Regions from separate parts of the Homo sapiens genome. Here region 2 is linked to region 1. The links come from fine-mapping of genetic effects on gene expression. Tissue or cell type: lymphoblastoid cells. Region 1 holds a variant in brackets; the other region holds the start of a gene. All regions are shown on one strand. Distances are from middle to middle.

Region 1 (5,382 bases):
CTGGATGCCAGCATCATTTCCCTTTTCCTGTTCTCCAAGGATGTACTTTGGAGGGGATGAGGAATGACATCAGTGCTTTTTAATTTGGTTGGATCCTCCCTTGTACCATAATAGTTCTTCGTGGTGCAGTGAGTGAGAAATTGAGGATGCATTTATTTTATCACAGCCTTGTTCTTAAGACAGGGCTTGGCCGAATGTGAACTTTGTTCTTGATGAGAAGGTAAATAGCGGCTGCCAGGCTCTGTCAAGCATGAGGTGTGAGTGGGAGGCTGCTGCAGAGTGGAAATGAGGTGACTTAGTTGTTAGGGGCAAGCTGAGCCCCAGCCACAGAGGCTCACAACTGCAGTGGCTCAAACAAGTGGATTACTCCCATTCAACTGTTGGGAGGAAGCTGGTTGGGAGGAAGTTGGATTACAGACATGAGCCACTGTCTCTGGCCTAGGATTCTTTCTTTATTCATAGCAATCTCCTATTGTTGCAGGGGTTGGGGCCATTTAAAGATATGGCCCTGGCCTTCCCTGAGGAGGAGTGGAGGCATGTGACCCCAGCCCAGATAGACTGCTTTGGGGAGTATGTGGAACCGCAGGACTGCAGGGTCTCTCCAGGTAAGACTGTCTCCACCCACAGGTGAGGAACTGGGGAGTTCTGAAAGCTCAGGTCAGGGGTCCTGCCGTAGCTCTGGCGCTCCTGGCAAAGGAAGGGGACTTCATGGCAGGCGGGTAAATGGGTCCAGCACGGACCATGGGGCACGAGGAGCTGCTTTCCTGTGTCAATAGAGGAGCCAAATGATGGAGCAGGAAAACATGAGGCCATTATTCTGGCTGTATGGAGACAGGTCGGTCATGAGGACCCCCAAACACCTACATTGTGTCCATGATTAAAGACACTGAGGGCTTGAGAACAAGATACGAACAGCAAAAGATGGGGCATCTGAGCTTGTTCAGATATTTATTGAGTGCTCCCTGCATGTGGGCCCTGTGTTAGTGGTTTTCTCTTGCGGCAGGAAGTGGGCAGGACTAACGTGCACGAAAGCGTTGGAGCTCACGGTGTGCACGTAGGAGGGCACGAGGGGGCTTCGCGATGGGAGAGGTTGGAGTGGCCCGAGTCACAGAGGAAGCAGAGCTGCGCTGGGACTCAGGTGGTGGCTGGGTTTGACCTGGGCTCAGAGCCTGGGGGGATGCGGCCATTGTGTGTGACAGCAGCTCATGGGAGGAGGAGCAGCGAGAGAGAGCCCACAGGGGCTGCCAGCAGAGCGCACTGCGGGGCTTTGGGGCTGCCAGGGCAAGGGACAGTATGGAGAGTCTGCATGCGTGGAATCAGGATGCCGGCGGGGAGAGGAAACACTGTGGCTGGAGCGGCCTGTCCTTGTTCTTTGATTTTCTTCTTTTTTGTTTCATAACTTCTTTGTGAGTTGTACACTGACCACCCATCTGTACCGACCCCACCTAGCCTTTCCTTATCCTGAAATGCCTTGAAGGAAGAGCAAGATTATCCCTGTGCTTCCTTCAGGACGTAAGAGAATCCATCCTGCCCCTCCACTTGCTGACCCTGACCTTGAGCATCTCCCTTGAGCTTTCCAGGTCTCAGTTTCCTCTGTTGTGGAATGGGGCTGTTCATGGAACCTGTCCTCATGGTGCCATGAGGATGAAGGGAGGTGACATATCTAAATGTGTGGTGACCATGGTAGTGTTAGATTGTTTAGTTAGTGCTGTAAGTATTACTAAGGGATTCTTGTAGGAGCCCTCAGCCTTCACTCATTTATTCACCACAGAGGTGGACTTGGCTCTGTGGCCATTGCTGTTCTGGTCACTATGAAGAGTTAAAAATAAAGGCGCTTGCCTGTGGGGTCTTAGAGTTCAGGGGAAGAGGCCATGTGCATGTAATAGTGGGATACGGTAAGGGGCACTGGTCTCCTGGGAGACCTGGGTCCAGGGCACGGTTGACACAGTGTGGCAGTGATGCAAGTGGCAGAAAGA[T/A]GTCAGCATACTTTATGTGGAGATGTGTGATTGCTGTAACGGCAGAGGATGACAGAACAAAGCAGGGGCTCGAGTGATGAGCCCCAGACAAAGGTGCCAGTGTCCTGGTGCCAGGGTCCCCCTCAGGGATATTCCCCTCCCAGTGATGCTGCTGTGTGGGGTGAGGAGCCCCTCGCCCCCATTCTCAGAAGATTTTCATGCTCTCCTGGCCATTTCTGACTGTTCTGGAGACTGGTTCTGTCCTTGTCCCCTCACCAGCTCAGTGTCTCAGAACTCAGAGCAACTCAAGCCCATACCTGAACATTTCTGCCGCCAGGTGACACGAAGGCCTGTTTCCCAAGTGTACCATTCACTTGCTGTCCCAGCTTTCAGGTCTTCCTGGGATTCACACTCGGGTTGTCCTGGTGCTTGTACTGACAGCTGCTTGGGGCTGGGCCTGAGCTGCTTCACCTGTAAAGAGACTGAATGCACAGGGCAGGGTTGAGCTAGGTGGCTGCCCAGATCACTTCCAGTTGTTCGTCTGTTCTCATTAGCAGACGGTGAGGTGCAGACCTTGTTGTCTGGGTTGTAATTGCAGTAATGTCCACAAGGACTGGAGCAAGAACTCACAACAGGATTTGGAATCACAGAGGCAAAAAGTAGCAGGTGCAGAAACCTGAATGCAGGACTCTGCAGGCTGGTTCCCAGGATGGTGAGGGTCCTGGAGTGAAAGATGAGTGCTCAGAGGAGTAAGGAGGAGGCAGGAGTGAGTAGAGTGAGGCCGCTGAGGAGTCCGTGAGGACTCTGGGTCCTTGTTTAAAAATTTTTTCTGCGCAGAGTAATGTGATGGAGGTTTTACTTGAGGAAAATTGGATTGACGGCAGGGTACGGCCAGTCTGGAGGGTTGAAATAGTGTAGGCACTGGGGTAAGAGCAGGAACCAGGCCAGTGGTCATGTAGAAGGGGGTTTACTGAAATATGCTTCCAAGGATGGGCCACAGATTGGCCAGAGGGGAGGAAAGAGAAGAGTCAGAGAGGAGTCTACGTCTTAGGATCCTGGCTAAGGGCCTGGAAAAATTATGTTACTACTGTCAGAAAGAGAGGGAAGCATTTTCCTAAGAGGGAGGAAGAATGGAAAGTTCCATTTGTTGACTTTGAGATCTAAGTGGATGGTCCCTGGAAGTAGCTGCAAGTCAGGTACATGGTCTGGGAGTTAAAATAATATCATGAACCATTGCATTCCTGCTCCATGTGTGCAGTAAACTTCATGAGTGTACAATCCATTTTGAAGGTGGTGAATGTAAGGCTCAGAGAGGTTAATTGATTTTCCCATGATCACACAGCAATTGAGCAGCCAGTGCAGCACTCAAAACGGGTTTCTCACTGCTAGGTCCCTTCTCTTCCACTACTGTGTCTTTCTCCCAGTGTCTCTGTTTATACTTAGGTATCATTGTATTTATTTTTCCCCCAGCTTTATATTTTGAACTCTTATTATACAAATTTTCAAACATACAGAAAAGCTAAGACTAGTACAGGGAACACACTTAGGTCTTTATCTACATTCACCAATTGTTAACATTTGCCATATTTAGCTGTATAATGTGTGTTTTGTTTTGGAATGATATGGAAGTTGGAGGCATCTCAATCTTTCATTTGTAAATACTTCAGCATTTGTCTAACAATGACATTCCCAACATAGCCCAGTAGCATAATTTCATCTAAGAAAATAAACATAAATTCGATATATGTAACATCTAGTGCATAGTCAGCTTTCCCCAAGATCTAGTTGTGGTTTGTGCATTGCATTTAGTTTTAATCTTACTATTCATAACACCTCAAAACTGAAAACTACCCAAATGAACAACAGTCAAATTAATAAGTAGGTTGCAGTCTATCTGTATCTGTATATCTATCTATATATACATACACACACACACATACATATACTCAGTGGAATACTGTATACCAATGAAAAAGAATAAACTACAGCTTCACACCATGATATAGGTGAACGTCACAAACATGATATTGAGTAGAAGAAGCCAGAAACAATGTGTGAGACAATTACCTGAAGTTCAAGAACAGGCAAAAAAGTCCAGACAATGTGTTCCCGTTGGTATAGTATATATGTATACTATATACGTATATCATGTATATGCTGTATACGTATATCTCGTATATGCTGTATACGTATATCTCGTATATGCTGTATACGTATATCGTATATGCTGTATACGTATATCTCGTATATGCTGTATATGTATATTGTATATACTGTATACATGTATATGCTGTATATGTATATACTGTATATGTATAGTATATATATGCAGGGTATAGTGATGGAGGAGATGTAAAAGGGGCTTCTAGGGACTGGTTATGTTCTGTTTGTTGAACTGAATGCTGTTTACGTGGTTGGGTTCGTTAAGAAAATTCTTTGCATAGTGTGTGGTGACGCACACCTGTAATCCCAGCACTCAGTGAGGCAGAGGCAGGAGGGTCACTTGAGCCCAGGAATTCGAGACCAGCCTGGGCAACATAGTGAGGCCCCCATCTCCACAAAAAGGAAAAAAAGGGTAACGTGACATTTTTTAGCCAGCGCTGGATCCAAAAAAATAAAAATAAAATCTTTGCGTGTACAAAACATAAATGGCTTGTACACTTTTATTTTCATGAAAAGTTTACAAAACAAAATCCAAGCTGATAAGTATGTATTTCATATTTTATCAAACCAGGAGGCATATACTGTCAGGTTTTTTTTGTCTTCTAGTCATCTTGCCTAAAAGGACTCTTCCGCTTTAAGCACCACTTATTTCTCCTTTTCTTTTTTTCTCTTTGCCTCTTTGTTCCCCAATACCTTTTCTTTTCTTTTTTTCTCCTCCCCTTTCTGTTACTCTTCCATAAACACCTGTTCCGTTAATTTAGAGAGAATATAAGAAGGATCAGAGTGAGGATGAAGGAAGGGTGAAGCTGAGCATTTCAGCAGCGTCATGGTCTCAGTCCTGATAAATATGCTACCTAGGGGCGTTCTCCTGCAGGAGCCTCAGTGAAGCCTGCTTCATTCATTCAGCCAGCAGTTAGCAAGCATCTTCCCTGAGTCAGTCCCCTGCCAGGCTCCTAGGAGACCCAGATGAATGAACCTGGTTAGGCAGAGGGAGCATGTGGGCAGGACAGGGGACTGAGCAGGCACCTGGAAGGTCTGGAGAGCTGTGTGCTGCCCTGTGCTACAGCAGGTGTAGAATCGTTTGGGGAAGGCGCAGGACATCTGGATGAATGGAAACAGCATTTCCAACAAAGTCACATGTAAATAGGTACAGAATAATAAAGTGCTAGTTAGGTGCACAGTGCTGAAGAGGCCCAGAGTAAGAGAATAATCGTGGTGAGTGTCTTAGAGGAAATTATTGAGCTACATTTTGTAAGAAGTAAAG
Region 2 (5,382 bases), 250 kb after region 1:
CAAGTCCCTACAAAGGACATGAACTCATCATTTTTTATGGCTGCATTGTATTCTGTGTATATGGGCCACATTTTCTTAATCCAGTCTATCATTGTTGGACATTTGGGTTGGTTCCAAGTCTTTGCTATTGTGAATAGTGCTGCAATAAACATACGTGTGCACGTGTCTTTACAGCAGCATGATTTATAATCCTTTGGGTATATACCCAGTAATGGGATGGCTGGGTCAAATGGTATTTCTAGTTCTAGATCCCTGAGGAATCGCCACACTGACTTCCACAATGGTTGAACTAGTTTACAGTCCCACCAACAGCATAAAAGTATTCCTATTTCTCCACATCCTCTCCAGCACCTGTGGTTTCCTGACTTTTTAATGATCGCCATTCTAACTGGTGTGAGATGGTATCTCAATGTGGTTTTGATTTGCATTTCTCTGATGGCCAGTGATGATGAAAATGTTTTAAGAAAGTTTATGAATTTGTGTTGGGCCACATTCAAAGCCTTCCCAGGCCACATATGGTCTGCAGTACATGGGTTGAATGAGCTTGGTTTAGACTTTCCGGGATTGAGGAGAAGTTTCTTTTTAAGATGACAATCATAAAGGTATGTCTGTAGGCTGAGGTACTGATCAAGTAGACTGGGAAAATTTATAACGCAGAAGAGAGAAGAATAATTTCAAGAGCAAGATTATAAGAGATCCTTGCAGATCAGATGGTTATGATGACCTGTGTTAGTCCTCCCCCATATTGCTAAACCCAAATAATCTTGTCTCCATTGGATGAATTCTACTACTGGCCTCTTCTTGGACTTATTCTGTGGACAATTTGGCAGTAAATGGATATGTGAGTAATAGTCTCCAAATCTGGTTCTTTAGTGCTCCCACTGATTCTGACATCTTCCCATCATGCCTTCAATAAGGCTTTTTTCTGCTTGTTTCATTCAGAGTCCATTTCTGTTGCTTGGAACCAATACCCATAACTAACACAAAATCTCAGGTCACCCTATTTTTTTTTTCATTAAACACATAAGATTACTGAGGCCTTGAGAGGTTAAGTAACTTACCACTGTTATCAAGTGGCAGACTCTCCTCCAGATCATTCTGATTCCAAATCACAAGGCTAGGAACCCTCAAAGAACAGAAAGGTATTTTCAGCCTGTGAAATAATAAAAGTTAATATGCCTACCTGCTATGGCAAGTCCAACGTAGACCAAGGAAAAGCACAAGCAGATGTGTAAAAAATCTTAAGTTTCACAATGCAATTCCAAACATCTAGTCTACCACCTGGATCATACTAGGCACTCAACAAAGATTTGTTAAACACAACATGGATTACAAGAATTATGTTATATATTATTATGTATGTATACAAAATGTATTATTCTTTCCCTTATGAATTCTTACACACTGTGATTCATGGAACACTAAGGGTCTAAGAATATAACTTTTAGGGCCAGGTGCAGTAGCTCACGTCTGTAATCTCAGAACTTTGGGAGGCCAAGGTGGGCAGATCACCTGAGGTCAGGGGTTGAAGACCAGCCTGACCAACATGGTGAAACCCCGTCTCTACTAAAAATACAAAAATTAGCCAGGCATGGTGGCACGCGCCTGTAATCCCAGCTACTCTGTAATACTCAGCTACTCCTGGCTGAGGCAGGAGAATCACTTGAACCTGGGAGGCGGAGGTTGCAGTGAGCCAAGATCGTGCCACTGCACTCCAGCCTAGGTGACAGAGAGAGACTCCGTCACAAAAAAAAAAAAGAATACAACTTTTATATCATGCATCCTCCCTTTCAAACAGCCATCATTCACCATTTACTTCCCATGCTTCCAAAAGTAAGCAACACACTCCAATTTTAAACTCCATAAATACTCTCTGGTGGCATGTTTTATATATTTTTGTTAATAAAAATAATAATAGATAAGGGCCCTTATATCTTTATCTTGCCTTCTTTTTTTCAGGGTGTCAGTGACCTTTATATGTCTTCTTTCAAAGGGACTTTTTAAAAAGTTTTCCCTAATTCTCTAAAGATCTACTCAAATGTTCTCCACAGTGCTTGGATACCTGACACCAAGCTGGAATACTGGAATTGTGTGTTAAATGTGTTTTTCTTCCAGTAGTAAAACAGCATAAGGAAGCTATCTCCCTGAAAAACTTTAGAGGTTTATATGAATTAATTTAAGGAGCTTATCCTATTCCACTCTACACTCGGGGCAACCACAATTGCAGTCGTTGAATGCACTGGGTGATAACATCTCTCCTCAGCACTCTTCTCAGAGCCTTAGCTACATCTTTATTCCGGAGAGTATAAATCAGAGAATTCAATGTGGGCGTAATGATGCTGTAGAACACAGAACCAACTTTGTTCTGCAATAGAGTGCACTGGGACCTGGGTCTCATGTAGGAGAAGATGCAGGCACCAAACCAAAGAGAAACCACCGTGAGGTGGGAGCCACAAGTGGCAAAGGCATTTCTCTTGCTCCCAGATGAGCGCATCTGAATGACACTTTGAAGGATGAAGACATAGGATGTAGAAATCAGGAAGATGGGGAGGAGGAGGAGAATGCTGCTGATGTACACTGTGGTCTCATACACAGTGATGTCGCCACATACCAACTTCACAACAGCTGGGAACTCACAGTAGAAGTGGTAGACTTTCCGAGGCCCACAGAAAGGGAAGTGCATCAAGATCGCCATGTGAATTAGGGAGTTCACGGATGCCCCCAACCATGACATGACAGCCATCATCAGTCCCACCTTCTTGTTCATGAGCACAGCATAGCGCAGTGGATGACAGATGGCAACATAGCGGTCATAGGACATGACAGCTAAGAGAAAACATTCAGCACCACCTAGACACAAATAGAGGAAGTGCTGGGTTGCACAGCCCACAAAGGAGATAGATTTCTTGCCAGATAGGTAGTTGGTAGCCATCTTCAGGATGATTGTGGAGACATGCATCAGATCCATGAGGGAGAGCTGGCTGAGCAGGAAATACATTGGTGTATGAAGCTGGGGATCAATGCAGATGAGGAGAATGGTGAGGGTGTTGCCACTCACCGCAATAAGGAAGACCACCATGGTCAAGGAGAAAAGGAAAAGGTGGGTAAGGGAGTCATCGAAGAGCCCCTCAAGGATGAAGTCTGCCAGAGAGGTCTGATTCTTCTGCCACATTGTCCCCTTTCTCAATCCCTGAGGAAACAGAGAGTGGAGATAAAGAGTGTGACTGGAAATACTGGGGTCCAGTATACCCAAGGAAAAGCACCTTTTGATAGAGGACAGAACCTGTGAAAAAAATTTCCGTTTCTAATTATTCAACCTCTCTAATTATTCAAATAACCTTTTTTTAAAAGAGAGCTTAGAAATCTGCCTTCACAAACATAATCACTCTGAAATTTCAGAATATCTGGACTCTATTATCAAACTTCAAGTCTCTTCTCGTTAAGAAAGATATATATGTGTGTGTGTGTGTGTGTGTATGTATATGTATGTGTGTATATATTTATTCCCCATTTACTTCCTAGGCTTCCAAAACACACATATGTATACACACACACACACACACACACATTTGTCTTTCTTAATGAGAAGAGACTTGAAGTTTGATACTTAATGGAGTCTAGATATTCTGAGATTTCAGAGTGATCATGTTTGTGAAGGCAGATTTTTAAGCTCTCTCTCTCTATACAGACACACACAGAGAGACAGTTTGGAGAAAAGCTTGGGGGCGTTGCTTATTTTATCAGTGAGGATTTTACTAGAAAAGCTATAACACTAAGAGATTTCTCTTATACAATTGTGGAAGCTGGTTAGGCAATCTATGCGTGGCTGTTACCTTTGTGTCTGATGCTGGAACTTTAATTCCAGAGGGCAAGTAGTCAGGAAAAAAAAAATGGATATAAAGAGTGGCAGATCAAAGTCATGCTGGAACCCACAAGCATGAGCTGCAATCCCACAAAGGCAGACTGAAACCCATGTCAGTTCTTGTTGTCTCTGAAATTGGCGGTGTGGATATCCTGCAGAAGCTGGGGCGCCTCTTTTTTTTTTTTTTTTTTTTTTTGAGTTGGAGTCTTGCTCTGTCGCCCAGGCTGGAATGCTGTGGCCCGATCTCGTCTCACTGCAAGCTCCGCCTCCCGGGTTCATGCCATTCTCTTGCCTCAGCCTCCGTAGTAGCTGGGACTACAGGCGCCTGCCACCACACCCGGCTAATTTTTTGTATTTTTAGTAGAGACGGGGATTTCACCGTGTTCGACAGGATGGTCTCCATCTCCTGACCTCGTGATCCCCCCGCCTCGGCCTCCCAAAGTGCTGGGATTACAGGCGTGAACCACCGCACCCGGCCGCTGGGGCGCTTCTTAATGGCCAGATTAAAAATGCACACACCTGGCCGGGCGCGGCGGCTCACGCCTGTAATCCCAGCACTTTGGGAGGCCGAGGCAGGTGGATCACGAGGTCAGGAGATGGAGACCATCCTGGCTAACACGGTGAAACCCCGTCTCTACTAAAAATACAAAAAATTTGCCGGGCGTGGTGGCGGGCGCCTGTAGTCCCAGCTACTCGGGAGGCTGAGGCAAGAGAATGGTGTGAACCCAGGAAGCGGAGCTTGCAGTGAGTGGAGATCGCATCACTGCACTCCAGCCTGGGCAACAGAGCGAGACTCCGTCTTAAAAAAAAAAATAAAAAAAAAAAAATAAAAAAAAAAAAGAATGCACACACCTGACCCAGAAGTCAGAAAAACTAAAGGAGAATCCAAGGGAAGGCCTTTTGAAGACCATCTGGTTGGCAACACGTTTTGGTGCTGGGGCAGTGTCCTCTAGGATGTGAAATATACTCTAAATCTGCATCCAATTTATGCTGCTCTTCCTCCCATAGCAAGATTCATGGAACCAGAAATCACCAGGTAGAAGAGAGAATGAGTCCTCTCACTATAGCCCCCATAACTGTGACCCACCAGCACAATTTTAGTTTTCTATCCCTTCACTTTTAGCTTTTGCTGTTTTAGAGGTCTTAGTTCCAAAGGGAGAAATTCTTCTACCAGGTGTCACAACAATAATCCCATTTTCTGATAGTTAAGACTGCCACCATGCCACTTGGGGCTCCTCATAGAACTGAATCAATAGGCAAATAAGGTTACTCTATTGGCTAGTAAGACTGATTCTGACTAGCAATGGGAAATTCAGTCACTACTATACAGTGAGGATATGGAGAATTATGTCTGCAGTCAGATTTTCTAGGGTGTACTCTCATGTCTCATGATGTAAGCCAATAGAAAACTACAACCCAATTCAGACAAGACTGCTAGTGGCCCAGATGCTTCAGGAATAAAGGTTTGGGTTACCCCACCAGGCAAAGAGTCATGAATAACTGTAGACAAAGAGAATTGG

Alleles and levels. Alleles are on the strand shown, and positions count from the first base shown. SD is a standard deviation of normalised expression in the study named.
As copies of T replace A in region 1, the expression in lymphoblastoid cells of the gene that starts at base 3,172 in region 2 goes down (large effect, 1.5 SD a copy in GENCORD).

The links. PIP is the estimated chance that this variant, and not a neighbour inherited with it, causes the effect.
Region 2: it holds the start of OR2AE1, and the variant in region 1 is the best candidate, but not a certain one, in a credible set for the expression of OR2AE1 in lymphoblastoid cells (GENCORD, PIP 0.55).

Annotation. Positions count from the first base shown.
Region 1 is chr7:99,623,576-99,628,957 of GRCh38, forward strand. It overlaps ZSCAN25 (zinc finger and SCAN domain containing 25), which reads left to right. Exons shown (of 8, transcript NM_145115.3): 7 at 482-605. Among named protein-coding and RNA genes, the nearest start is that of ZSCAN25, 9.3 kb to the left of the region's middle. The variant T/A (reference allele first, on the strand shown) is at 1,977.
Region 2 is chr7:99,873,862-99,879,243 of GRCh38, forward strand. It overlaps OR2AE1 (olfactory receptor family 2 subfamily AE member 1), which reads right to left and starts at 3,172. Exons shown (of 1, transcript NM_001005276.1): 1 at 2,201-3,172. The coding sequence starts at 3,172. The coding sequence ends at 2,201.